Regions from separate parts of the Homo sapiens genome. Here region 2 is linked to region 1. The links come from fine-mapping of genetic effects on gene expression. A gene starts in region 1. The other region holds a variant in brackets. All regions are shown on one strand. Distances are between the middles of the regions.

Evidence for each region. PIP is the estimated chance that this variant, and not a neighbour inherited with it, causes the effect.
Region 2: its variant is fine-mapped to the expression of INSIG2 in whole blood (INTERVAL, PIP 0.94).

The regions. Positions count from the first base shown.
Region 1 is chr2:118,081,449-118,094,362 of GRCh38, reverse strand. INSIG2 (insulin induced gene 2) reads right to left here and starts at 5,892. Exons shown (of 6, transcript NM_016133.4): 1 at 5,822-5,892. LOC107985940 (a long non-coding RNA gene) reads left to right here and starts at 5,932. Exons shown (of 3, transcript XR_001739662.3): 1 at 5,932-6,112. RefSeq lists enhancers at 5,938-6,127, 6,138-6,187.
Region 2 is chr2:118,123,555-118,136,468 of GRCh38, reverse strand. It overlaps LOC124907879 (a long non-coding RNA gene), which reads left to right. Exons shown (of 2, transcript XR_007087211.1): 2 at 4,097-4,373. Among named protein-coding and RNA genes, the nearest start is that of INSIG2, 42 kb to the right of the region's middle. RefSeq lists enhancers at 5,282-5,361, 12,251-12,914. The variant G/A (reference allele first, on the strand shown) is at 6,542.

The DNA of each region.
Region 1 (12,914 bases):
GCTTTTGGCAAGGTTCAGTAGCTACAGAACTCTCCTTCATCATCATCATCATCTGGTTGCTTTTGGCAAGGTTCAGTAGCTACAGAACTCTCCTTCATCATCATCATCATCATCATCATCATCATCATCTGGTTGCTTTTGGCAAGGTTCAGTAGCTACAGAACTCTCCTCCTCCTCCTCCTCATCATCATCATCATCTGGTTGCTTTTAGCAAGGTTCAGTAGCTACAGAACTCTCCTCCTCCTCCTCCTCCTCCTCATCATCATCATCATCTGGTTGCTTTCAGCAAGGTTCAGTAGCTACAGAACTCTCCATCATCATCATCATCATCATCATCATCATCATCATCATCTGGTTGCTTTTGGCAAGGTTCAGTAGCTACAGAACTCTCCTCCTCCTCCTCCTCCTCCTCCTCCTCCTCATCATCATCATCATCATCTGGTTGCTTTTAGCAAGGTTCAGTAGCTACAGAACTCTCCTCCTCCTCCTCCTCCTCCTCATCATCATCATCATCTGGTTGCTTTCAGCAAGGTTCAGTAGCTACAGAACTCTCCTTCATCATCATCAACATCATCATCTGGTTGCTTTTGGCAAGGTTCAGTAGCTACAGAACTCTCCTTCATCATCATCATCATCTGGTTGCTCTTGGCAAGGTTCAGTAGCTACAGAACTCTCCTCCTCCTCCTCCTCCTCCTCCTCATCATCATCATCTGGTTGCTTTTAGCAAGGTTCAGTAGCTACAGAACTCTCCTCCTCCTCCTCCTCCTCCTCATCATCATCATCATCTGGTTGCTTTCAGCAAGGTTCAGTAGCTACAGAACTCTCCATCATCATCATCATCATCATCATCATCATCATCATCATCTGGTTGCTTTTGGCAAGGTTCAGTAGCTACAGAACTCTCCTTCATCATCATCATCATCATCATCTGGTTGCTTTTGGCAAGGTTCAGTAGCTACAGAACTCTCCTTCATCATCATCATCATCATCATCATCATCTGGTTGCTTTTGGCAAGGTTCAGTAGCTACAGAACTCTCCTCCTCCTCCTCCTCCTCCTCCTCATCATCATCATCTGGTTGCTTTCAGCAAGGTTCAGTAGCTACAGAACTCTCCATCATCATCATCATCATCATCATCATCATCATCATCATCTGGTTGCTTTTGGCAAGGTTCAGTAGCTACAGAACTCTCCTTCATCATCATCATCATCATCATCTGGTTGCTTTTGGCAAGGTTCAGTAGCTACAGAACTCTCCTTCATCATCATCATCATCATCATCATCTGGTTGCTTTTGGCAAGGTTCAGTAGCTACAGAACTCTCCTCCTCCTCCTCCTCCTCCTCCTCATCATCATCATCTGGTTGCTTTTAGCAAGGTTCAGTAGCTACAGAACTCTCCTCCTCCTCCTCCTCCTCATCATCATCATAATCTGGTTGCTTTTAGCAAGGTTCAGTAGCTACAGAACTCTCCTCGTCCTCATCATCATCATCATCATCATCATCTGGTTGCTTTTAGCAAGGTTCAGTAGCTACAGAACTCTCCTCCTCATCATCATCATCATTATTCTTTATAGGGCACCCATTTATGGAAGGCCTACTCCCTGCCAGACATATAGTAACTCTACTCTTCAAAACAAACATAAAGGTAGACATTATCATCCTCATTTTACAGATGAGGCTACCAAGTCAAAGAGATTCAGCAATTTGCTTATGGTCACATGACATGCAGTATCAAAACTGAAATTCCACTTCAGGTCTGATTCCAAAACCCATCCTCTTGCCTCTATACCTTGAATTCCATTCCATCTCAACTGCTCAGACTTCTTTTTCGGCAGATGGTTCTATATAAAAGTGTTTGGTTACTGAAAAGATGGTTAGATGTTGAAATACCATCTCAACTATAATACACTCTCAGATAGTAAGCCAAAACAAGCAGGTGACTATACAATTGCACAAAGATGATGAGAATAAATGTAAAATCACCTTGAAATTTTCTTTAATAGTACTAGATCAAGGTGTGAAAATGTTTTAAAGTAAAAAGAAAAAATAGCAAACTAACACTCTGTATAAGAACATTAGTTGACTCTTTACTTCCCCAGATCCCAGTAGACACAGCACGTTGCCCTCACGTGCTGCTAACAGCTGCTAGAAGATGGGCATACTTTGAGTAACCCACATTGAGACAGCGTATCATTTGTTTCTGTTTGTGATTTTTCCAAAAGGGAATTAATGGAAAGGGGTATTTTATGTTTAATAGTATTTTTAAAAAGGAAAATAACTTCAGTTTAAAAAAGCTATTTCAGTCATGCTAGCCCCCATCTCACACTGACCAGCATTTGTCAAAGGGCACTGATATTTTAGGCAGGACAATTATTTGCTGTGTGAGACTGTTCTAAGCATTGCAAAACATTTAGCATCCCTGGCTCCCACCCACTAAATGCCCCCTCCCCTATTTGTGATAACCAAAACTGTCCCCACAATGAGAGCCACTGATTGCTACAGACTTCATTCTATTTCAAGACAGCTAGAGACTTTCTGTTTATTTATGTTTTCTACCACAGCTGCTTATTTAACCTTTCCTGGCAGTGCTTGTTTAGTTTTCTACTTCGCCCCAAAAGTTTTCCTTAAAAATAACACATTTGCTTGACATTTATTTGAATGAGATTCAAAAAGCTAATTTTGTAACTACATCATAATACAATAGTATATAATTACTGGTGACAAAAAATAAAAGCTTTAAGAAATAGCAGGGAACTGGGAAATCATCTATTCCAAGGGGTATGAGACCCCCATGCGAAACAAAACAAAAAAGTTGTATATATATGCATTTTTTTCTGGGATGAAAGTTCCATAATTTATATAAAGTACTCAAAAAAGTCCATGATCCAAACAAAGTAAAGAATCAGTAATCTAACAATTCTCTCACTCTATTAGCAAGGCCAATGACATGCAAAGTAGTCAACTGGATTAACAAGATTAAGACAGTACCATCAGTTCTTATTACCACAAACGTGTATAGTGAATGCCAGAAAATGACCAGACTCATCAAAGGGATAGAGGCGTCCACAAAACCATTTCACCCCCTACCATGCAACAATGAAATTCCTTTAAAAGCATGTTTATAATATCAGTTGCACACTAGAGGAGTCAGAGGAGTGGGTTATTTTCAAGGGAAAGTAAGCTCCCTTAGTTTACTTTGAAGTTTGTTTTTCTGATTTTGTACTGATACCATTTTCTTAAAACAAAGTGGATCTATATCTTTAAATATTAGTCTTACATTAATGATAAACTTGATGCTCCAAAATTTTTTTTAAAAATCTATATTTGAAAAATTTAGATTACTTGACAAATAATTTGCTGACCAGGGAAAAAGTCTCTGGTATAAAGATACTGTTTAAAGGACAATATGTCAATAGATTCTCGAAAACAATCTTGGTAAATAGGCAGGTGTTGTTAGTTTCCATTTTACAAAATAAAATAGGTTAAGTAACTTTCCAAGATCACAGAACTGTTACCAGGTAGCACCAGGACTAGGCTCACCCACTCTGACCCCATGTCCGGAGTTCTTCCTGCTTCACCACACTGCTTCCATTCACAAACATGGTACAAAACAATTTAAGTGCCACACAAGAAACCGTTTTTAAAATCATGTTGGTAAACTACTATTAATACCAAAATAATGTTTTCAACAATTCACAAAGAAAAACTTTCCACCAGACTTGAAAAATTCTACGCTGAGCCCTGGCCTAAAATTTCTGGAAAGTACAATACTAAACAAAAAGAAAAAAAGTTGAAATAATTTGCATAGATCAATGATGAATCATCAATACTGGAAAAACATTATTCCAGGTGTATGGCTGCCTATTAATGGATTGATATTATTACTTTCAGGTTAAAAAAGAGTTATAAGTGATTATGAGCTTCGTGAATAAAAATCAAGGTTCATGTTGGCCACTGAAACAACTTAGAGGCAACAAGCATTTGAAAACAAACACACATACAAAATCTTCTAGTAACCTTAAGAACCTGTTGCATTGTAACAACTGCAACACCCCCTAAAACCAAATGACAAGACCATTCCTCTTCCAATGATTAGCCGTAAAAGAAGTATTTTTACTCCCTCAGATAACCCTGTTTCTTCAGGTGCTTAGGTCACGTAAGCTACTAAATAATAAAGTTAAATTACTACCTCACATATTTTTCATCATATGCTCTCTTAATTAGAATAGCATTCTTGAAATAGAATAAGCACTAACATTAGAAAAAAACAGACTTAAATCAATGCAACAGTTTAATGCTCCCTAAATAAAAACACATCTACATGTATCATGGGCTAGAGACGTTAAAAATTTCTAGGAAGAAAAGCAATATTTGCCTTATAAACACTGCAACTCTTTCCTCTCAACATTAAAACCCAAACATAGAAACCAGTAAGTTAGCTGCATTTACAGCCCCTTACAGGTTTTAAATGTCACATCTCAGTGCCTAAAAAAGTTACTCCATCGTTTCGAGATAAGTTTCTGAGAACAAAGAAAACTCTTTAAACTACTGAACTGCATTTTATTCTTTCCTTTTCCGTGTGACCATCTGCAAAAGCAACAGTTGTCAGTTAAACAGAATCAACCTCTTTCCCGAGTGGACATGATTCACAGCTTGGTCACTGTACAGCAGATGTGAACTGAGAACTACGACATAACACAATGACAAAACACAGTACTGAGCACAAAGTACAGGGAAAGAATGAAAGACAGAAAACAGGAAGAGCACACGTCTGATTTTTGTTTTCTTTGGGGCCCCCATTAGTAGCATTCCCTTCATCCATCTTCATTCAGTGGTTCACTATCAGGGCCAAACCCAAAAGTTACAAAACACCATCTAGCTACTGTCTGGCTGCTTTTATTTTTTCTGCACCAGGACGGGAGCACGCATTCCCCTGCAGTCCTCAGCTCCACCGCAATACTGATACCAAACAGTTTCAGTGGCCCAGCTGCCAAGCCTAACCATTCCTTTTTAAAGCATTTCTTCATCAATCCTACAAAACAGCAAGTTCTTCATGGTATATTTTCCTAGAGCATCTAGCTAATATCATACTTTAACAACTTTTTCCAACGTTAACTGGACATGGGTCATTATCACTTAAGTGTTAGCGCCATTGCCCGCGCCCACTCCCATAATCCACACTGCTTTCCTTCTCCATATTGCCAATCCCCACTAAGCAACCCTAAAATCTAGTAATTATCATCAAATCCACTTCTAGGCCCTGGCAAGAATTATTTGGCTTTACCGAAACACCTATTCCATAGGTAACCAATTCCAGTCAAAAATGCCAGAGTATTACTCCTCAACCCAATGCCCTATCTCCTTAGTGGATTATAAACTTACTACGACAACCTGTCTTCTTTGGATCCAATCCCCGCCCAAGTCTGAGTCTTCTCTCCCAGGCTACAAGCCCCCAAGTCCTGGCAGCTCTATGCTTGACAGCTCGCTGACCTCCACCTCATCAGACCATTGGGTCGCCCTTCTCGCCGTCCTCCAGCCTTCTTCCCGCTCAGACACTCATCCACTGTCCGGGGAGCCTCGACCCCTCCTATACCCCCTCCCCGATCCCGCAGTCCCCTTCTGGACCTTGCGGACCCCTCTCAGGTAAGCGGAGCCCCTTGCCCTGCAGGCCCATCAGTGGTCCTGGCTCCCCGCACCTGCCACCAGGGTTCCCAGGCTGCAAAAACACAAGTAGTTCTTCTTCCCAAGGGCCACCCTCCTCCTCAGGCCGCTTTCCTCAGCACCACGTCACCCGCGCTTCGCCGGGAGACCCCCAACTCACCCCCGCCTCCGCCATCTTCTGGGACCAGCCCCCGTACCCCCTACCGCCTCTTCCTCCTCCACTCCCACAACTCCGCCCGAGCTCCACTGCGCCTGTGCGGCCAACGAGGCCGCGCGCAGGCGATCGGGGCAGAAGAGCTTCCGGTTCCTGCTGTCAATAAGACGTGGACCTGCGAGCCGGGGCAAAAGGGCTTCCGGTCTGCGGGAAACTGGAGGCTAGCGGTGGGCGTGGACCGTCGAGGTGACTGGCGGTTGTCGGATCTGCTGTTGTTTGCTGACCAGGCAGCCGTAGGTAATGACGGATGCCCAGACCCTGTGGGCGGAGTAAAGGAATCATGCACTGATACACGCACACTCACCGAGGGGCGCGTCCGTCTGCGTGCCCCTCATCTCGTAGCCGAAAGGAGCGCGTTCCGGGGCAGGCCTCCGGGTACTTCCCGCAGAGGACCGGGCTTTATACTCTTTGCTCCTTTTCCTCCCCTAGTAAGTCATAACTTATTTTGGGAGAAGGGCATAGTTATTTGTCTCTCGTCTCCATGCTACAGCACTTTATGTGCTTTTCATTCAAAATCGTTCCTCGAGGACGACCAAGTAATGTGATTTGGGGGACAGTTTTCATAGGAAGGGCTTTATAAGTTTACACCAACATAAAGAAAACTTAAAAACCTTATAACCGCTTATTTTTCAGAAGTATTATTTTTCATTTAATCTAAAACCATACTTTTAGAACATGAAACCAAGCCAAACAGATCTTTGCAGATTGTGCAAGCGAACTTTTTTTTTTGAATGAAAGTGGTGCCATCAATGCAAAAGCAAGCCCATATAAGTGCCGAAAGGTACTCGTCATAAGGAGGAGTTGCTTCCCTATTCTGAATTTTTATTTATTTTTATTTATTTATTTATTTGAGACGGAGTCTCTCTCTGTCACCCAGGCTGGAGTGCACTGGCATGATCTCGGCTCACTGCAACCTCTGCCTCCCGGGTTCAAGTGATTCTTCTGCCTCAGCCTCCCCAGTAGCTGGGACTACAGGTACATGCCACCATGTCTGCCTACTTTTTGTATTTTTAGTAGAGATGGAGTTTCATCATATTGGCCAGGCTGGTCTCAAACTCCTGACCTCGTGATTCGCCCGCCTCATCCTCCCAAAGTGCTGGGATTACAGGCGTGAGCTGCCCCCTGAATTTGTTTTTTTTAAGCAACTCTTTTTAAAAAGAGAGAAAAAATAATCTCTCTTGAGTGTATTAGTTATTGAGCTATTCCATTTGGAGGTGGCTTAACCCAAAACGTGTATGGATGTGGTAAGATTACAATGGACTTGAATGTTCTAGATGAAATCTGGGCCGAGAGTAATTGCATAATAGTTTTCCAAAGGACTGTCAGATGGTAAACTCCTTTCATTTACTTTGAACTGATAAACGATAAGATGGATTTTTGTTTTTTGACCTTTTTATCTACATTTACTTCTGAAAATTGAAAAAGAATCTGAATTCCAACAAAATGTTTCTAGGCAAGTATTTGCATGATGCTTCTCTAACATTTCCTATATCTTAGTGTTTTCTCTAATGTTTTCTGTAGCTTTCAAATTTCACTCCTGTAAGTTTTTACACTACCAGTAAGAAAGATCTGGGCCAATTATACAGAATGGACGATGATTTTTAAAAGAATAGAGAAAGCATTCAGAAAAGAGACAATAATTTGAAAATGTTCTGACATCATGTATTTCCTTAAAGCAATACAAGTCCTGTATGTCCAGTTCATGTCTACTCCAACCGAGCTTTTTTCAGACACTTAGAAATTGCCTTCAAGAAAATCCTTATGGAACATTGTAACCTAGAGGGGCATTTATTTTCGTTTAAATATGTATTAATTGCAAGTAGTGACAGAACCTAAAAAGCAAAAACCATATAGCACCAGTTCCAAGGTTCCTATATCTAATGCAGTTACTCCTACTGCAGTACAAGGAGGAATATAAAATCCCTAGGAGAAATACAAAAGGCCATTGTCTTCTTTGACCAGATTTGAGGAAAGTTTTCATGGAAGATGTGGTCTTTCAGTGGGCGTTGAGGGTAAATATGCAGATATGGTTAGCCTGTGCATTCTGGTGGAAGCTCAGAGTTGGAAAAACATGAAACAGATTGCAGAGTCTGGCATGTACAAAGAGGTATGGTGAGACATGTGAGTTCTAAACATCAGGCTCATGAATTTGGACTAAATTTTTGTTATGGAAACATGGAAATCCTAAATTAATTGATGCCAGAATATAAATTGGTTAAGAACATCAAGAAATCATAACAACTGAGTTATTTTGAAGTTGGTGTAATGTGGTCAATGGAACGCTGGTGAATGATCCTTGAAACCTGGATTGTATTTTAGCACTAAGACAGTATGCGTGTAATCACTTGCAATAAATTCATTTTTTTAGGCTTTCTTCTTTTCATCTGTAAAATGAGAGATTGGTTTAGATGATTTCTGAGGTCTTTTTTATAGGTAGAAGTATCAACAATTTGATAATTCTTGACCTCAAGAAAGGTTTTTTCCATTAGCTTTATATGTTGTTTGGTCTCCCAACCAAGAAGATCAAAGATAAGTTAGAAAACAAAAAGCCCTTTACTTAGCTAATACAAACACCCACAAAAGTTTATTGACTTTGTTGGAGTGAGATATTGTAGGAGTCACATTAATTATTGCCTACAGGTTGATGACTAAGCCATTCAGTAAGCCTCTAAGAACCTTGGACTTGGAAACATTACCCAAATTAAAAACATCCAAGATAATTTTTTTACTATTGCAATTTTCCTATTCAGTAGCTAGAACCCCACACACTACAGACCATTCTACTTTTTTGGTTTTGGTTTTTGTTACGGTGTTTTGATGTGAAATATGTTTGAGGGACATAGAAAGTCAAGGAATTTTGCTTTTTTGAGAGATCAGAATGGATTATTTACTAAGCCAGCTATCACCTGAGCACCTGGCAGGTACCAGACACTTGGCACTGGACTTTAGGAGGAAATCAATACAGACAAGCCACATTCCTTTGTGAAGCTAGAGTCCTGTGGGGGAAACACAGTAAATGGTGGAATTCATATGTAATTACAAACTGAGACAAGTGCCATGAAGATGGAACATCTCCATATTGTGATGGAGAATAAAGGGGAATACCTGGAGACCATGCGTGAGCTGAAGATTGAGAGGGATCTGCTAAGAGCAGGATGAAGAACAGGTGTGAGGGCACAAAAGCTGAAAAACTTGGTGCATTCTGGGAATTGAAAGAAAGGCAGAGCTGGGGGTAGCAATTGAAAAGAAAATTGCAAATTGAAGTTGTATTTTAACATCATGATTGATGGTAATCACTTTCTGTGTGCCAGGCACTGTGCTAAGTTAAATCTCATTTCACATGCTCAAAACCCATTTGAAATAGATACCAAATAGCAGATGAGAAATTAAGGCTAAAAGCAGTGATTCTTAACTTTGGCTGCATATTAGGATCACCCATAGATTTATTAAAAGTTCTAGTGCCCGAGCCCCACCTGAGCGTTGAGAATCACTGACTTAGTGTTAATCAGTCCAAGGTCACTTCATAGCTAAGTGGCAGAGAAGGCAGAAATTGAACCTAGATCTATTGGATTCTAAACCCTATGCTCTTAGTCACTCACTAGTGCCCTGTCAACATTCACAAGCACGTAGTAAGCAGCAGTTACATGTGGGAACTCTGTTAAACACTGAGACACAACAATGAATAAGACAGATCTCTTGCCATCAATAAATTCACAGCCTGGAAATGCAGAAGTTAGGTCAGCCCACCTCTACAGAAGCAAGTCAACTGAGAACTCTCAATGAGATCAGATATATTTTTCCTATTTTAAGCTAGATTGATGTAGGCAACTGATGACAGGGAATCTACGTGGGCAGCTAGTGCGATTGTCTGCTGAGAGGTGGTGCAAACTTAACAAAGGCAATGGCAGAGGATACAAAGAATCATCAGGACTTGATAACTGCTAATGTTAGGAGTGAAGAAAAGAAGGTGGAAGTTGATTTCAAAGTTTTGAGCCTGAGAGACTGAGTGAAAGTAACATCATTGATCTAGAACAAGAGTACAAGAATTGAATTTCAGGTTGAGTGAGTTTGAAATACTTGTTGAACATTCGGGTAAAAATGTCCAGTAGAGCAGTGGAAATGTGCATCTGGAGTTTGAATCCCCAAATTGGTCTAGAAATGAAGATCTGGAATTATTGACTTAATAGGAGGTAGTTGAAAACATGCCTTGCATAAAGCGTATGCTGTGTTTGGAATTTTTTAAAAGACAATAGAGATACGAGAAAGAAAAGAAAAACCCTGACATTGCCATACTTGAATATGTCAATAAAGCTATTTTTTATCTACAGTGGTATTAAACACAATCAATTCATGATTATCCATGATGAGTTTTTAATACTTTCCAGGCTTTCCTTGGCCACATAGCAAATGTAATAGATGAGACATAGCCAGAGAATGCAAACCAATTTTAAATATTGGCTAAATATTTAAGAATAATGCTATATGATGCATTCAGAAATGTAATAGGAATATCCTAGAACAATGTTTTCACACAAATAATTTTTATGTACCCCTCATACTGACTTAAATTATTTTGATCATAATATTACTTAAACCTAAAAAAGTTACAATGTTCTAAACATAAAACTAGAGAGAGAATTCTTAGGCTTAAGCTCATATACATCATAAAAGCAAAATATTTGCAAACTCACTGTGAAGAAAAGCATAACGTAAGTAAGCTTAAAAGTATAGTAATGTAAAGGACATCTTGAAATGGATGTATAATGTCATCAATATTGAGGTGGATGGTAGGGGGCAGGGGGAGGTTTGCACATCAACAGCTCCAAAAAAGGAGAATGAGGACATTTATCTTTTAGTGGCATAGCACTTTGGGGGCATTTTTGGATGGGTCTGTACAGAAGCAATGACACCTAAAGTCAATAAATTGAATGTATATAAAGTCAAATGGTCGCTGTAAGGCTTGGTATGTATCATCAGGCAACAAATAAACTAAACAAAGCCCAAGCGAGGTCACTATGGATGAGCAAGCAAATGCAAAATACACCTCTAAGACAAAGCTACTGAGGTGTAAAACATCAGAGTGAGAAGACAACTGGAAAGATTACAGACTATAAACTCTTTGTCACAGAGGCAATGATAGAGACCCAGAATATAAAAGCGACACTAGCTATTAATTATTACAAGGGCCCATACAATTTGAGGTCAGAAAACATAACAAGGTGTTCTCTAAAAGATTTTTGTCCTGCTAATTCACCGTACTGTTGTTTCATCTCTGGGACACGCCATTCAAACTGAACTCACACATAATGGGGTTTATATAATGTTAGGTCCCTCCCGAAGACAATGTATGTATTCTTATCTCTAACTGAACTTAAGCTAGACTCATGGTTGTCTAAGAGTGTATATTATTTTTATAAGACACTGATGGAAGTAGCAGAGAATTTCCTCTGACTTGCTAATTATATGTATGTATACATTTATATGCATTGGTTCACAAAAGCAGAGGGTTTCATTTGATAGCAGATGAAGGACACGATGATCCAATAATTAAACTTACCCAAAAGAAATATGTATAAAGCTAGCTCATGTAACAGACATAAAACACACTATAGAAACTCAAGGACTTGAATTTAGATTTGTTCTGGGATTGAGACTTGCCAAAACCAAAAACCATCAAAAGAATTTCCCATCAAAGTAAAGAAATTATGTGAAATGATTTTAAATTTAATACTCTTGGAATTTGAGAAGCATTACTTTTTTTAAAGGCTAGGAATTAATACTTTGGTAATGATTGGAGAAAACTGAAAGAACTTTAAGAAGCAGATCTTAGATTTATAAAATTAATTTTGGTATTGAGCTGTAATAGAACCATCATCAGAAAAGCCATTCCAAACTGAGAAACAGTATGTGTAGCTCATCAATGGCCTGAAGACTCCTGGTGATGTTTAATATTCTCAGAGGATGTATTAGCTACTCTAGCTTCAGTGGATCCCATTTCTCCTTTTGGAGATTGATCCAGTGTCCTCTCCTGGAAATAAGAGCTCAGTTTTATTTGAGGAAGCCTGGGGCATGTGCACTGTTTAGAATAAGGCATATCTGCCTTGCAGGCTGTGCTCTCCACTACCAGCTGCATATTCTTGGACAAGTTATTTCTCTGTTCTTCAATTTCTTCATCATACAAGTGCCTCCTGTTGTAAGGAGTAAGTGTGATAAAGTAGTGGTAAAAGGTCATAGTTTTGCAGATTTATTCTTATTCGCTTTAATATTATCTTTGACAAATGACCTTCCTATGTCTGTTGAATGCCTTCAGTTTGGGAATTCCTCACCTCTTGAGGAAACTGCTTTTATCTTTGCATAGGTCCAGGTACAAGAGAGTTTTTCCTAGGGTTCAAGTCTCTCCAGCTTCTTTATGGCTCCCACACATTGCCACTCAATTCTGTGTGCCAGCCTTTAAATTGTTAAATCTGCTTCCTGCTCCATGCTCCCCGAAGATCCTTGTCATGTCTAAATATACCCAATTTCTTTAGTCATTTTCCATATGACTTGTTCTCCATCCCTTAACCATAGTAGTTGCTTTCTTCTGGATATGCTTCAGTCTGTCACTATCCCTTCACAGGACCACTTTCAGAACAAACACCAGAGCTGCACCATCACATCTTTTGTTCTATATACTTCTTTTAACATAACATCCCATCACAGTAGCATTTTTGTCGGCCACATCCCACTATTAAGTTGTATAGAGCTGTTAAATTTAGACAACTCTTAAATCCTTTCCATGCGCACAAACCATATTCTTTCTATCCTGTTCTTTTATTGTTGGGGTAAAACTTTGGGGGCATTTGGATTTTTTTTTCTATTGGGAGTGAAGGCTAGGTCCTAAACAAAAGGGCTTCCCTGTTGAATTTCTCCTTTTTAAAACATGTCCATAGTTACTACCTATCAAGATACTTTTGGTACAGATTCCAGCATTCAGTATAATAGTGCGCATTGCAACCTGCGTCAGCACGCCATCCTGCCATCAGAACCTTATTTGTAATAA
Region 2 (12,914 bases), 42 kb before region 1:
TTGCAAAACGGGGGGTCAAGAGATGCAGTTGAAAGCAACAGAACAAGAAATAGTAGTTTATATCTATTCTTTAAATGTATGTGGTAAGCAGTAGAGGAAGTTTAAAATACTAATATAGCTATCAAAAATTGGGAGGAGAGAGGAAGGGAAGGTAGGGGTGGTGCAAGTGAGGGAAATCCTCATGTAGCCCATTGGGAGAAATGGATAATGTCTCCAGTTGACATAGCACTAAGAGTGGCCTTAGCCTATTATTTTGAGGTATGGAGGTAACCTTCAAAGGTAAAACTGAAGAGAATTAAAAGTTCTTGCCTATAGGCATCGGGAGGAGGGACAAAGAGTGTTTAGGGGAAAATGATTGGTGATTCTTGTCATAAGTCCTTTCTGATGTTTTTACTATTACTACAAGAAAATATTTTTCAAAATTAAAAACAAGTTTTATTTCACTGCTTTAGACTAGGCAGGGTTCTGATAGGAAACAGATTATATTCTCAACCCAAGTAACTGAGCAGAATTTTAACAGGACCATTTGCAATTGTGTGGGCAGGCTAGGGTAGGGAAACCTACAAGGCTGGCACAGTAGCCACCAGCATTAGGTTGCATTGACCACCCCTCGTCCTCAAAGGCCAGGAAAAGGAAGTCTCTGCTGAATTTGGCAAGAGAGTGGCTGTATGGCAAGGGATGTCTGACAAGAGCTGAGGCCTTTGCAGAGGACATGATGACCCATGGTAACCACACAGGGAGAGGTCCCAGGGAAATAAATAATCTTCTTCACCCTGCTTTTCCTCCCCAGGATTCTCTTGTTGCTTCTTACTGGCCAGACCCAACCAGAAGCCAGAACTGTGCTGCCCAGTAAGAGAGCCACTAGCCACACTTAGCTATCTAAGTTAATCAAAATTAAATAAGGTTAAAAATTTAGTTCCTCAGTGCTCAATAACTGGTGGCTAGTGGCTGCCATCCTGGACAGGGTAGACATAGGACATGTTCATCATCAGTAAACGTTCTACTGGGCAAAGCTAATAAAGGGTAAAAGAGGGTCAAGACCTTGTTCATGAAGCTTATCCTCTGGGGCACAGAGGAAAAGGAGAAGGATGGTGAGTGGATCTGGGGGGACAAACAGAAGATGTGCAGCATGTACAGCACATTGAAATGCATCTTGCAAGATGCTCTATTAAAATATAATAAAAAACTGGAGTTTGGGAGTGTGTGTCAATGGTCGAATAAATGTGACAAACTGTACATACTGTTTCATTCTCATGGACACTCAAGATATACATCAGCCTAGTAACAGCTCTGGGAAATCCTGGAAATCTATTTAATGTTTGTTTAAAAATAGGTGTTTCTCAAACATTTTTGGCTAAGAAACTTCTTTTCTTAATGGGAAGGGTTACAATATCAATTCACAGAGCTCTTTTGATAATGGACATTTATCATTTGTCGACTTCCAAGATCCAATCATTCTCCTTATTTGGGATGGGGGATCCCAAAGGAGACAGGAAGGTTGGATCTTTCTCCCCAGCACAGAAGCTGAATAGTAGCCAAGAAGCCTGCTACTTGGGGGGCATCAGATCCCCCTCAGCCATGCTGTGGTTATGAAAGGCACCACTCAGATCTCCTGCTCTGGGGGTATGATTGACAGCTCCAGCTGCTGCCTTCCTGATCCATCCTTGAGTTCACACCACCGTTGCCCTGTTGCTTCCAGCAAGCGACTGAGGGCAGCAGGGATATTAAGAGGCATGCCCCCTCCCGCAGACATGGGCCCCTTTGAAGACATCTTTGGCTTGAGGACTACTCGATGGCCCGTCTAAGACCTTCCTGCAGCCTGAGACACCCCTACACACTCTCTCTTCCCATGCCCCATTTCCCAGGTCTTACACCTGTACCTGTACTTAAAAGCTCTCCCTGCCATTCTGGCTTCCTCTCCTTTTTCCTTCACAGGCATTTCCCCCAGTAACTCTCCCACAAGTCTAATCATGTCTTAGGGTCCACTTTCTGGAAGACCAGAACCAACACAACTCATCTGGATCTTGAGTAGTGACTCCAATATGTGGGAACACACAGAAATAATCCAGGCCAGAGTCTAACGACATGGGGGGGTGCAGGGGCAGGTTTCTTGGATGCAGCTTGTTTGGCAGGTCCAGTGTTTTCTTTTAGTTTGCTTTCACAGAATCTGAGTGTCTTTACGTGTGGTGTGTGTTCTGCCCCAACCCCCACTACCCACTATTATCTTACACCCATGAAAACTAGTTGTTCCTATTACCTGCCTGACACATGCAGGTATTTGAACTTGAAATCTCTAACTTAATGTGTACATCTGCCTAGGCGGTGAGAAATCACACCAGATTGCTCACAGCTTTTCAGAATCCTAGCCCAGTGACCCATGACTCCCACCCTCTGCCCACTGTTTTACCATGATTCAGAGGCCATTATGTTTTAGGCAGTGTAATTGCTCCAGTTATCTTTTGCCCTCTTCATTGGGCCTGGCTTCAGTTATTTTACCTCTATGTTAGAGATTCTCTTTGAGACACCTCTAAGTACCCACTTTCCCCTCAGAACCTAATTTCTGGTTTCCAAGCCCTGGAGACATCATCCCTGAGTATCTTCTGTCTTCTTTTCTCATTAAGCCCATCCCTACTGCCTGCCTCATGTCTGCCCCATGGTCTACCCCTTCAAGCAGCCCCTGCCAGTGAAATTCACCTCACCATGGGCAGCTCTTATCACTTTGACCCTTAGCATGAATCCTAGCAGTCTCTGACTACACTCTCATTACATGGTATGTGCCTTTATATGGAATGGATAGAATTCACCTGCAGTGAATTTTAGGTAGAGCTTGGACATTATATTAGACATCATTGAATCTTATATTGAGAAAATAATTATTTTTTCAATTCTGATTATATCAAAGAGAAAGTCTTAGTTTGATGCTAGTCTGGTGGTTAAAAACACCACTCCAACTCTTTCTAATTTCCCTTTTCAATAAAGAACAAGGTGGCCTCAGACTCAGGGGCTTGGGCCAACAACATTGGTCAGAATTTGATCATTGTTATTGTACTTATTTTTGTCATTATACTTATTTTGTCATTACCTCCTATGGCAGGGATATTTGTTTTCCTTTAGAGTATTGATTTAAAGTTTATTTTTAAAGTAAGTTTATTTAGGGAAACAGTAAATCACTTTAAGAAAATATTGCTAATAGCACTAGTGGTATTAAACCATTGCAAAAATCCTGAAAGGGACAGATAGATAAATCAAACAGGAGGAATATCACCCCAATCAACCTGCATAGCCACAGTTCCATGCCTATGTGCCTTCCATCTGGGTGCCACTAGGTGATCCTTATTGATGAAGCCTGTTTGAGTTGGGTTTCCTTTTCTTTCCTTTTTTTTTTCTTTTTTTCCTTTTTTTTTGGAGTTGGAGTCTCACTCTGTTGCTCAGGCTGGAGTGCAGTGGCACGATCTCGGCTCACTACAACCCCCGCCTCCCGGGTTCAAGCAATTCTCCTGCCTCAGCCTCCCGAGTAGCTGGGATTACAGGTGCCTGCCACCACGCCCCATTAATTTTTGTATTTTTAGTAGAGAAGGGGTTTTGCCATGTTGGCCAGGCTGGTCTCAAATGCCTGACCTCAGGGTGTCACCTGCCTCGGCCTCCCAAAGTGCTGAGATTACAGGCGTGAGCCACCATGCCCAGCTAAGGTTTTCTGTAACTTACAACATAAACTAACCTTAATGCCTAGCACTAGGCATAGAACAGGTGCTCAATAAATATTGTCAAAAAATAAATATAAATACAATATGGAATGAATAATAGAAGACCTAATATCAGAACTGTTATGTGGTAATACAGTCGTCCCTCAGTATTCAGAGGAGTTGGTTCCAGGACCCCCTGAGGCTACCCAGATAAACAGTTTCTCAAGTCCCTTATATAATACGACGTAATATTTGCATGTAACCTGCACACAACCTCCCATATACTTTAAATCATTTCTAGAACACTTATAATACCTAATGCAATGCAAATGCTATGTAAAGATTTATTGTATGTTTTATTGTTGGGTTGTTATTTTCATTGTATTGTTTTCTCAAATATTTTTGATTCACAGTTAAAATCCTGGATATGGAGTCCGAGATATGGAAGGCCAATTGGCTGCCAAAGAAATGGGAGAGACAACACGTGCGGTGGCTTCAAAGGAGGAGGGAGAGTTGAGTTTAAACTAATGAAGTAAAGGCAGGGATGGGAGACTGAAAGGAAGGAAGACGCTGACACTTCTTCAGTGTGATTGTATGCCATACACTGTGCTGGGTGCTGTTAATACAACAACGCTTCTGGCTATGTACTGTTTAACCCCATTAGAAATAAAGCAACAGGAGTTCAGAGAATTTAAGTAACTCGATTTAGGTCACTCAGCAATTAGCCAGGCCAGACATATACCCAGGCTGAAGGATGGCCAAGCTCATTAAGTCAGGCAGCTAGAATTGAGACCAGTGGTGAAATAGAATGAGAGCATTGATATGAACGTGGTTTATACACTTTTAAGGGCTACGAAGATCATTCCAGAGGAATGAAGGAACAAGGAGAGAATTGTGTCAACAAAGACTGGCACATGGCAGGATTCCACTCACTTTCCACAAACTTTGAAGGAAGAAGTAGCTAATTGAATCTGAAGTTTCATTCACTAGAAACTAATAGAGAATTTACAATAATTTATCCTGGATGGAAAGTAAGATCCATCATGTACATGTTAGACAAGAGAAGCATTTGATCCCTTATCTTCCTAGTTAACATTCATCTTGAACACTGATTATGTGATAGTCTTCCTAAAACAAATAGCAAGGGGGATGGGGTTGGGGAGCACACAGATAACAAAAAAGTTTTGATGAGCTTTATGGAGACAGGAGATAATTTGTTGATATAAAAATACACCTGTAATCCCAGCACTTGGGGAGGCTGAGGCGGGCGGATCACTTGAGGTCAGGAGTTTGAGACCAGCCTGGCCAACATGGTAAAACCCTGTCTCTACTAAAAATACAAAAATTAGCTTGGCGTGGTAGTGTGTGCTTGTAGTCCCAGCTACTCGTGAGGCTGAAGCAGGTAAATCGCTTGAACCAGTGAGGCAGAGGTTGCAGTGAGCTGAGATCACACCACTGCACTCCAGCCTGGGCGACAGAGCGAGACTCTGTCTCAAAAAAAAAAAAAAAAGAGACGCTTTTGCATGTACTTCCTTTCCACCACCATCTGTCACCTAGGAAAACCTCTACAATCACAAAGCTTATCTGAAAATCTGACTATATTCAGGCAAGATTCAAACCAAGAGAAGTCAAACCTAGAGACACGCGGTTATGAACTATAAACTGTTCATAAGGCCCTGGGGTTTTTCGGACCACTTGTGCCCTAACCAGCCTGTGGGCTCCCATGTTCATTATCCTCCCAAGTGTTAAGGCACAAGGTATCAGGCATCAGGCAGTTTTTGTATTAGGAAGACTATCACATAATCAGTGTTAAAGATCAATGTTAACTAGGAAGATAAGGGATCAAATGCTTCTCTTGTTTAACATATACACGATGGATCTTACTTTCCATCCAGGAGAAGTTATTGTAAATTCTCTATATTAGTTTCTAGTGAATGAAACTTCAGATTCAATTAGCTACTTCTTCCTTCGAAGTTTGTGGAAAGTGAGTGGAATCCTGCCATGTGCCAGACTTTGTTGACACAATTCTCTCTTTGTTCCTGCATTCCTTTGGAATAATCTTCATAGTCCTTAAAAGTTTGTAAACCATGTTCATATCAATGCTCTCATTCTATTTCACCACTGATCTCAATTCAGGCAGTTTTTGTTGCACAAAACCTCAGAAACTAAAACAACGAACATTATTTGGCACATGTCTGCAGAGCCCAGCACTGCTCTACAGTGGGCTTGACTGGACAGCTCTGCTGATCTCGGCTGGGAGCACTGAGGCATCTGGGGCTTGGCTATCGCTTGGCCAGTCTAGGCCAGCCTTGGCTGCAGTGACTCAGCTCTGCTCCGGGTGTCTCTCACCCACCTCTGGAATCAGCGGGCTACCTCAGTCATGTCATTCTCACGACGATGGAAGCAGTGCAAGAGGAAAAGTGAAACATGCAGGAGCTCTTGAGGCCTAGTCTCCAGACTGGCACACCATCTTGTCTGCCTTATTCCACTGACCAACATAAACCACCAACTTGAGCCCAGAGTCTGGGTATGAAAGAGCTGCACAGATGCATGGCAATGGACATGAATATAGTGAGGGTGAAGATGGGGACCGTTACCGGCTCCAGTCACACCTAGTCTGCAAAAGACTTGGCTCACTGGTTGGGCCCAAGAGGTTCCCTGAGGACAATGACTGTATCTATTTATGTTATTTCATCTTTTCAATCACTTTGCAAAACAATATCATGACTCCAACTTATAAAAGAGGATATCAAGTTTCCAAAACATGAAGAAATAAACTACTTAAAATCATCTGTCCCTTCACATTGGATAGCCCTTGAAATTGAACTCCAGCACCATTATCAGTTGCTAAAGTTCCC[G/A]AACCATTCCAGGGAGGGACCTTCTTAATGGTCCAAATCTCAGCCAGGCATTATTCTTGTGATTTCAGGGAGTGCGCGGCTCTGGGCTGAGGCCATTGAGACTTGTATTTGATGGAGAACCAGGCTTTAAGGAGAAGGAAACAGTATTTTGAATACAAGGCGCTGCTCTTATCTTCTATCAATAGATAAAGTTTTGGGATATGCACCTTCCACTAAGGCTCACAAAAGGATTGGCAGCATTTTGAAAGGGCAAAACAAGTTTTTCTTTCTTTTCCCTCTCTTTTAGGGTGAAGTAGTTGCATTGATGGCCACTCTTGGCTTCCTACAGTGAAGTCACCTCAGACTTTGGGGGTTTTTCTACAGAGGTGGAGGTCAGGATGGGTCCTGGGAGGTGGGAGGGGGTGCTGTGTCCAGCTCCCCAGCAGATGTACTATTGTGGCTGCCCTGGGGAAAGGCTGAGAACCTATGGGGAGGGTTGAGAAAAAATTTCCAGGAGCTTCATGGTGGCACCAGGCAGGAGGGAGTCCAGGGCCTTCCTCCACACATACTGTGCTTCTGCCTACAATCCACATCATACTCTACCCTGTGTGCATATCACATACTGAAGGAACCAAGCTTCAGTTCAGTTTGTTTCCAGCACCTTCATCTGCTAATGCCATGTTAGGCATGGGAGATACTAAGATGAACCATAAATGGTCCTTGCCTTTAAAGAGATTACAGGGTAGTGGGAACATCAGGAAAAAACAGAAAGGAAAAGAGAAATGCGATTGGGTGGCATAGACTGAATAGCCAAGGCAGCATGTAAGAGGCAGTAAGATCCTCTGGAATGATGACTTCGAAGCTAGGAGTTGAAGTACAAGTGGAAATTTACCAGACGGAATCTGGAAGAGAGACTTCCAAAGAAAGAGAAGATGCTGACTCAGTCTTGGCTATTAAAATGTCCATATTCCAAAAGCATGAGTATTGAATTCAGATGGCTGTCTAGAATCCTCCAACATACTGGACTCATCCAGGACTCTCTGAGCCTTAGTTGCTTCATCTGTGAAATGGGAATAATCTTAGGTACCTGACAGCAGTGTGCTGACAACTAAATGAAATACAGTTTGTGAAAACATTTTATAGGCTATAAAGTGTAACCTCTGCAGATGTTCATTGCTCTTATCATTGTTAGTGCTATTACTATTCATCATTAATTTGGGGCTTAGTTGGAAACTATGGATTCAGAGACAGATAAAGCAGATCACCCTGCCCTCAAGGTGATCACAGTCTAATAATAATGTCACATTATTGTAGGGCTTATTGTATGCATGTCCTGTTCCCAGCACTCTATGGCTATTACCTCATTTCATCCTCATGCCCACCTGAGAAGCAGGTGCTATGGTCATCTTCATTTTTCAGTTGGAGGAAACAGGGACACAGAGGGGTTAAGGAACTTGTAGAAGGCCACTCAGCTGATGGGTGGTAGTGCCTAGATGTGAACCCAGACATGGTGGCTCCAGAGAATGCACCTTCACCACTACCCCACACAAGTAGACAGTCAGCTAAGAGACAACCACAATATGATGTCATAAATGTTGTGAGCCTGTTACAATGCAGTAAATGTGCCCGATGTCCTGGGATAATAAGGGGGTATATGTTGAGTGAGGGGGTGGGGGAGTTGTCAGCAAAGTCTTCTTAGAGGAGATGGTCCCTGAACTGAGGTCTGGCTAAAAGGTGGAGCAAATTGTGCCCTGCAAGAAGAGCAATATGAGCAAAGCCCCCAGAACTGAGAGCAGAACTGCTGTCCTCAGTGTGGGAGGGACAGAGAGAAGGGGCAGGGTATGGCTGAAGATGTGGCAGGAGCCAGGTCCTGAAGGGCTGGGGCACCATGCTAAGAAGCCCCAACTGTCTTCTGAGGGCAGCAGAGTGCAGAGGCGCACTGTGTGTGGAGGGGAACCCTGGGTGCCTCCCTCCTGCCTGGTCCCACCATGAAGCTCCTGAGCATTTTTTGTCAAGCCTTCCCATAGGTTCTCAGCCTTTCCCCATGGTGGTCCCGTAACACCTCTGCTGGGAAGCTAGACAAGCACATACCTCCCACCACCCAGTACCCATCCTGACCTCCACCTCTGTAGAAAAACACTCAGAAGACAGTTGGGGTTCTTTAGCATGTGTTGGAAGGCTCACTCCAACTACACTGTGGTTGACATACCAGGAGAGGGGATTATGGGCAATAGCTGGAGGCAGAGAGACAGTTCAAGTTCTGACACAAAAATCCAGCTGCTAGGACTGGTATCTGAAGGTGGAGTTGTGGCATAGGGGACGGAATGTTTGAGAACTGCTAAGATATAGCAATTGGTGAAAGAGAAAGAGGAATCAAGAGTGACTACTGAAGCCCAGTCAACATAACAAGACTTTGTCTCTACTAAATATAAAAATAAATTAGCCAGGATTCATGGCGCATGCCTGTAGTCCTAGCTACTCAGGAGGCTAAGGTGGGAGGATCATTTGAGCCCAGGAGGAAGAGGCTGCAACGAGCTATGATCGCACCACTGCACTCTAGCCTGGGTGACAGAGAGAGATCCTGTCTTAAACAAACAAAAAAAAAGAGGTCCCTGTTCTGGGTGACTGGGTGGGTCAGGATGGCAGGCAGCAGGATCCGAAGGTGAAGATCTGGGAAATGCTGACATTTAAGGGAGGGCCAAGGAGGCAGAGCCCAGGGAAATCTGACACAAGCAAGCAGAACAGAAAGAGGAAAACAAGCGAGGATCCTCCAAGAATTCAAAGGAAGTTGAAGGGTGACAAATTTAGGTTAGATACCAAGAATTTACTTCCAACAAGAGTCCTGAGTCCTTAACCTAGAGGAGCATTTTTCCTTGTGATAGAAAAAGTCTTTGTTTTTAGTCTTATTTTTTGTATTTGTCTTTGTCTTTCCAGACTTCACATTTCACTGCCTCACTCATTTAGTACTGATTAATTAATTTCTCAATATCTTTGTCTACTCATTACTGCTCTCTGCACACAGAGACATAACGGGATGGAGGAGGAGGTTCTGCTCATTGGTATTTGCAATGTGCTGAGACTGATGAATGAAACGCTAAACACACTGTCACCATCACCAATAATAGTAGCAACTGACTCAGCCCCCATTTATTGAGCATCTATTACATACAAGGTGTTCTGTTATGAGTTGCAAAAACATGGCCAATAAACAAGGTAGACATGATGACATTTCTCTTTTGCAGAGGGAGAAACTAAGCCTTGGAGAAGTTAAGTGAGCAGCTGAATATCACACAGCAAATAATAAATAACAATGGAACATATGCATATAGCCCTCAGGCAGCCCCCCAAAATTTTCACCAAAAGACTTCCTTGCCATCCTTGCTGATTTGTGAGCAGAGAATGAGTTATGTGTGGAACGCGGAGAGGGGGTGGGGGCGGAGCAAAGCAAAGAGGGATAAGAGGACCCAGGTTAGGGAATGACTGTTCTCAACCCCAATATTTGAAGTCATTAGCTGTGCCTTCACACACTTAGTACAGGCTCTTTCAGAAAACAATAAGCACCTGAATGGCTTTTCATGCTAGCCACAGGAGAAACTGAACATACTGATGCAAAAATTCTGGCCAGCTTTCCTTCAAGAACACAACTTATAAATCATTCATTCACTTAACAAATATTTACCAAGCACCTACTAGATTCAAGCATTGAACTGGGCCAGGGATACAAGGACAAACAACAAACCAACCAATCAGTGGGTGAGAAACAAGAGGGTGTCTTCTTGGGTTGTCTCTGAGGAGGGGACACTTGGAGAGTGAAAATGGTCAGCAGGGGAGGTGGAGGGCCCTTTGGACAGAGAGGCAGCTTGGCAAAGGTCTCTCTTCTCACACTGGGTTTGTACCACTCCTCACCTCTTTATCTTGCAAACTCCAACTTATCCCTTAAAACTCTGGGAAGGTTGGCCTGACCTCCAGGGCTAGTTTTGCAGGTTTCCTGTGGGCTTCTTGTGCATCTTGAGTGCAGTTCTGTAGTAACAGGTATTTGCAGGTGTCCCAGCCTGTCTATCCCTAAGTCTGAGCTCTCTGGAGGAAGGGGGCATATCTTCTGGCTCTATGTCTCCAGTTCGGGCTCAGAGTAGATCCTCGATAAACACAGTAGAATTGCTGCAGCATGCTGCAATACATGTCTAAGGATACATCAGGACCCTTTGGGTGGTCTTGGGCAATACTGCCCAGTTAACCACTTTGCAGTTCCTTTTTGAGGAAAGTAACGGAAAGATTGGAGGTCCAGGCTCTGCCAGAAGGACTTGAGCAAATCACTTAAGGTTTTGTTTTCCTCTTTTATCCAATGTGAGCGTTAGACCAACATTATGGGCCTGGGATGGTATGTGGTTTATCAGAACCCATGCGTAGGCTGTTTGCACAAGAACAAGTCCAAGTTAGCCTGAAGTTATTGCTACTTTTTGACATCGAGATTTTCTTTGCAATGGTCAATGGTAGGATTAATTACTGTGGCTGTTCCATGGGCACTCGAAACTAAAATATATTCCCTAACTTCAGGGCACATAGTATGACATCTATCCATCATATCTACGTTTGTGATTATGTCGCTTAGGTCTTTTTATATCTTTATTTTCAGTCAAATTGATTTGAGAGGATGTGCTGCTTTTTCGAAACTGAGATGTAGAGAGGCCGAGGAGGTGCCAGTTCCTGCGGGAAGGTAGAGTATGGAGAAATCACAGGGTCTGTAGATCATCTCCAATCAAACATCACTCTGGCTGTAAAGAAAGGCCCCTGCCCCAAAATTCAACAAGGTCTATATTTTCTCATTTTTATTGGTATTATTTGAAAGGAGGAAGAATCAACTTTTTATTCAATCAGGTAATTTTTTATTGTTTTCTATCTTTCCTATACATAAATTTTGTTTCCCAAATCAAGTTGGAAAACTCAGTCCTCCTTTTATATCTCCATGGTGGGTAGGACAAGGTCTACTCATGGCTTGGTGGGGGATTTTAAATGGTGATGTTGCTAATAATTACACCTAAGCACTTACTATGAGACAAGTTCTCTTCTAGATATTTTGTATGTTTTAGATTATTTAACTCTTACATCAATTTATAATGCCACCATTTTACAAATTAAAAAAAAAAAAAGCAAGGCACGTGGACGTAAAATAACTTGCGCAGGTTCAAACTGCTAGTGAGCAGCAGAGCCGGGGCCCCAGCCTGAGACACTGTGCTCTGTTGCCGCTTTTAGAGACCAACTCACCCACTGGCTTCACTACATGCGTGAAGAAACAGGAACTTGAGTCTGCTAAGCAAGCTGCCGGGAGAACTAAAACTAGACCCCTGGTATTTGGACCTTTATCCAGAGCCTTCCTGCTGTGCATCGCTGCCCCTCACAATGCACAGAAGCTGTATTTGTGGCAGCAAGAGGTTGTCATTTGCTGGATGACATGGGTTAATGGTTTAATAGCAACTCCTGCCTACCTCACCTCACAGGACTGCAGGGCCAGCACCATAGGAGAAATAAAGATGATGTAATCAAATATTATCTAAATAATGTATACTTTTTGAGTCCTGAATAAATCACCCAGCTGTGGAATACATTCATGTTTAATATTACTAGGATATATAAAATGATTTAGGACTGGGGGGATTGGAAGTAAAGAAAACTAAAATTCCACAAGGGCCAAATCCTTCTAGGTGGGAAGACTTGTATTTTTTATAAGCACCTCCTCTCTCTCCAATTCCCATGCACATGACCTTCATTCTTTGTTTATAGATTGTGGGTGTCACCCTTGGAAACAGGCATTTTCCCAGAACAAGTAAGAACTAATGTTAGCCAATAGGAGAGAATACTAGTCAGCCCTCAGGGGAGAGGATGGCCATTAAAATATAGTACATAAAGGGATGAGCTGCTGGTATTTATCTCCAAGTCCAGCTTGCAGAGCCTTTCTCTGTTGCCAAAAGTGATCTAACATCTCCCTGCATAGCTTGGCTTCAGATGGTGAGATTTTTATTATTTTTTCATTCCATTCCACATTCATTCCAGTAATTATGAAAAAAGAAAGGAGTTATGACATATCTGGGGAGACTGACCCAGTGTATCAACTTTACTAAGAAAGGACATAATGGTTTTGGCAAGATAAGAGAATTTCATTCGGAAATTCCAAAGACATTCTATCCCAGTGGAGTTACTTGACTTGCCAAAAATCAAAGTTGTTTAGCTGGGTGGGGCAGGGACCTAAGCCAGATGACTAAGGGTGACACTCCTGGACAATCCACACAAGAGGCTTTCAGAAAGGCATTCTGATGCTGTGACTGGTGGTGTTCCACCTGCATTCATTCACGATGAGCCAGCAAGGTGAGATCGACAGCAAGCCCCAGAAACCTGGCCC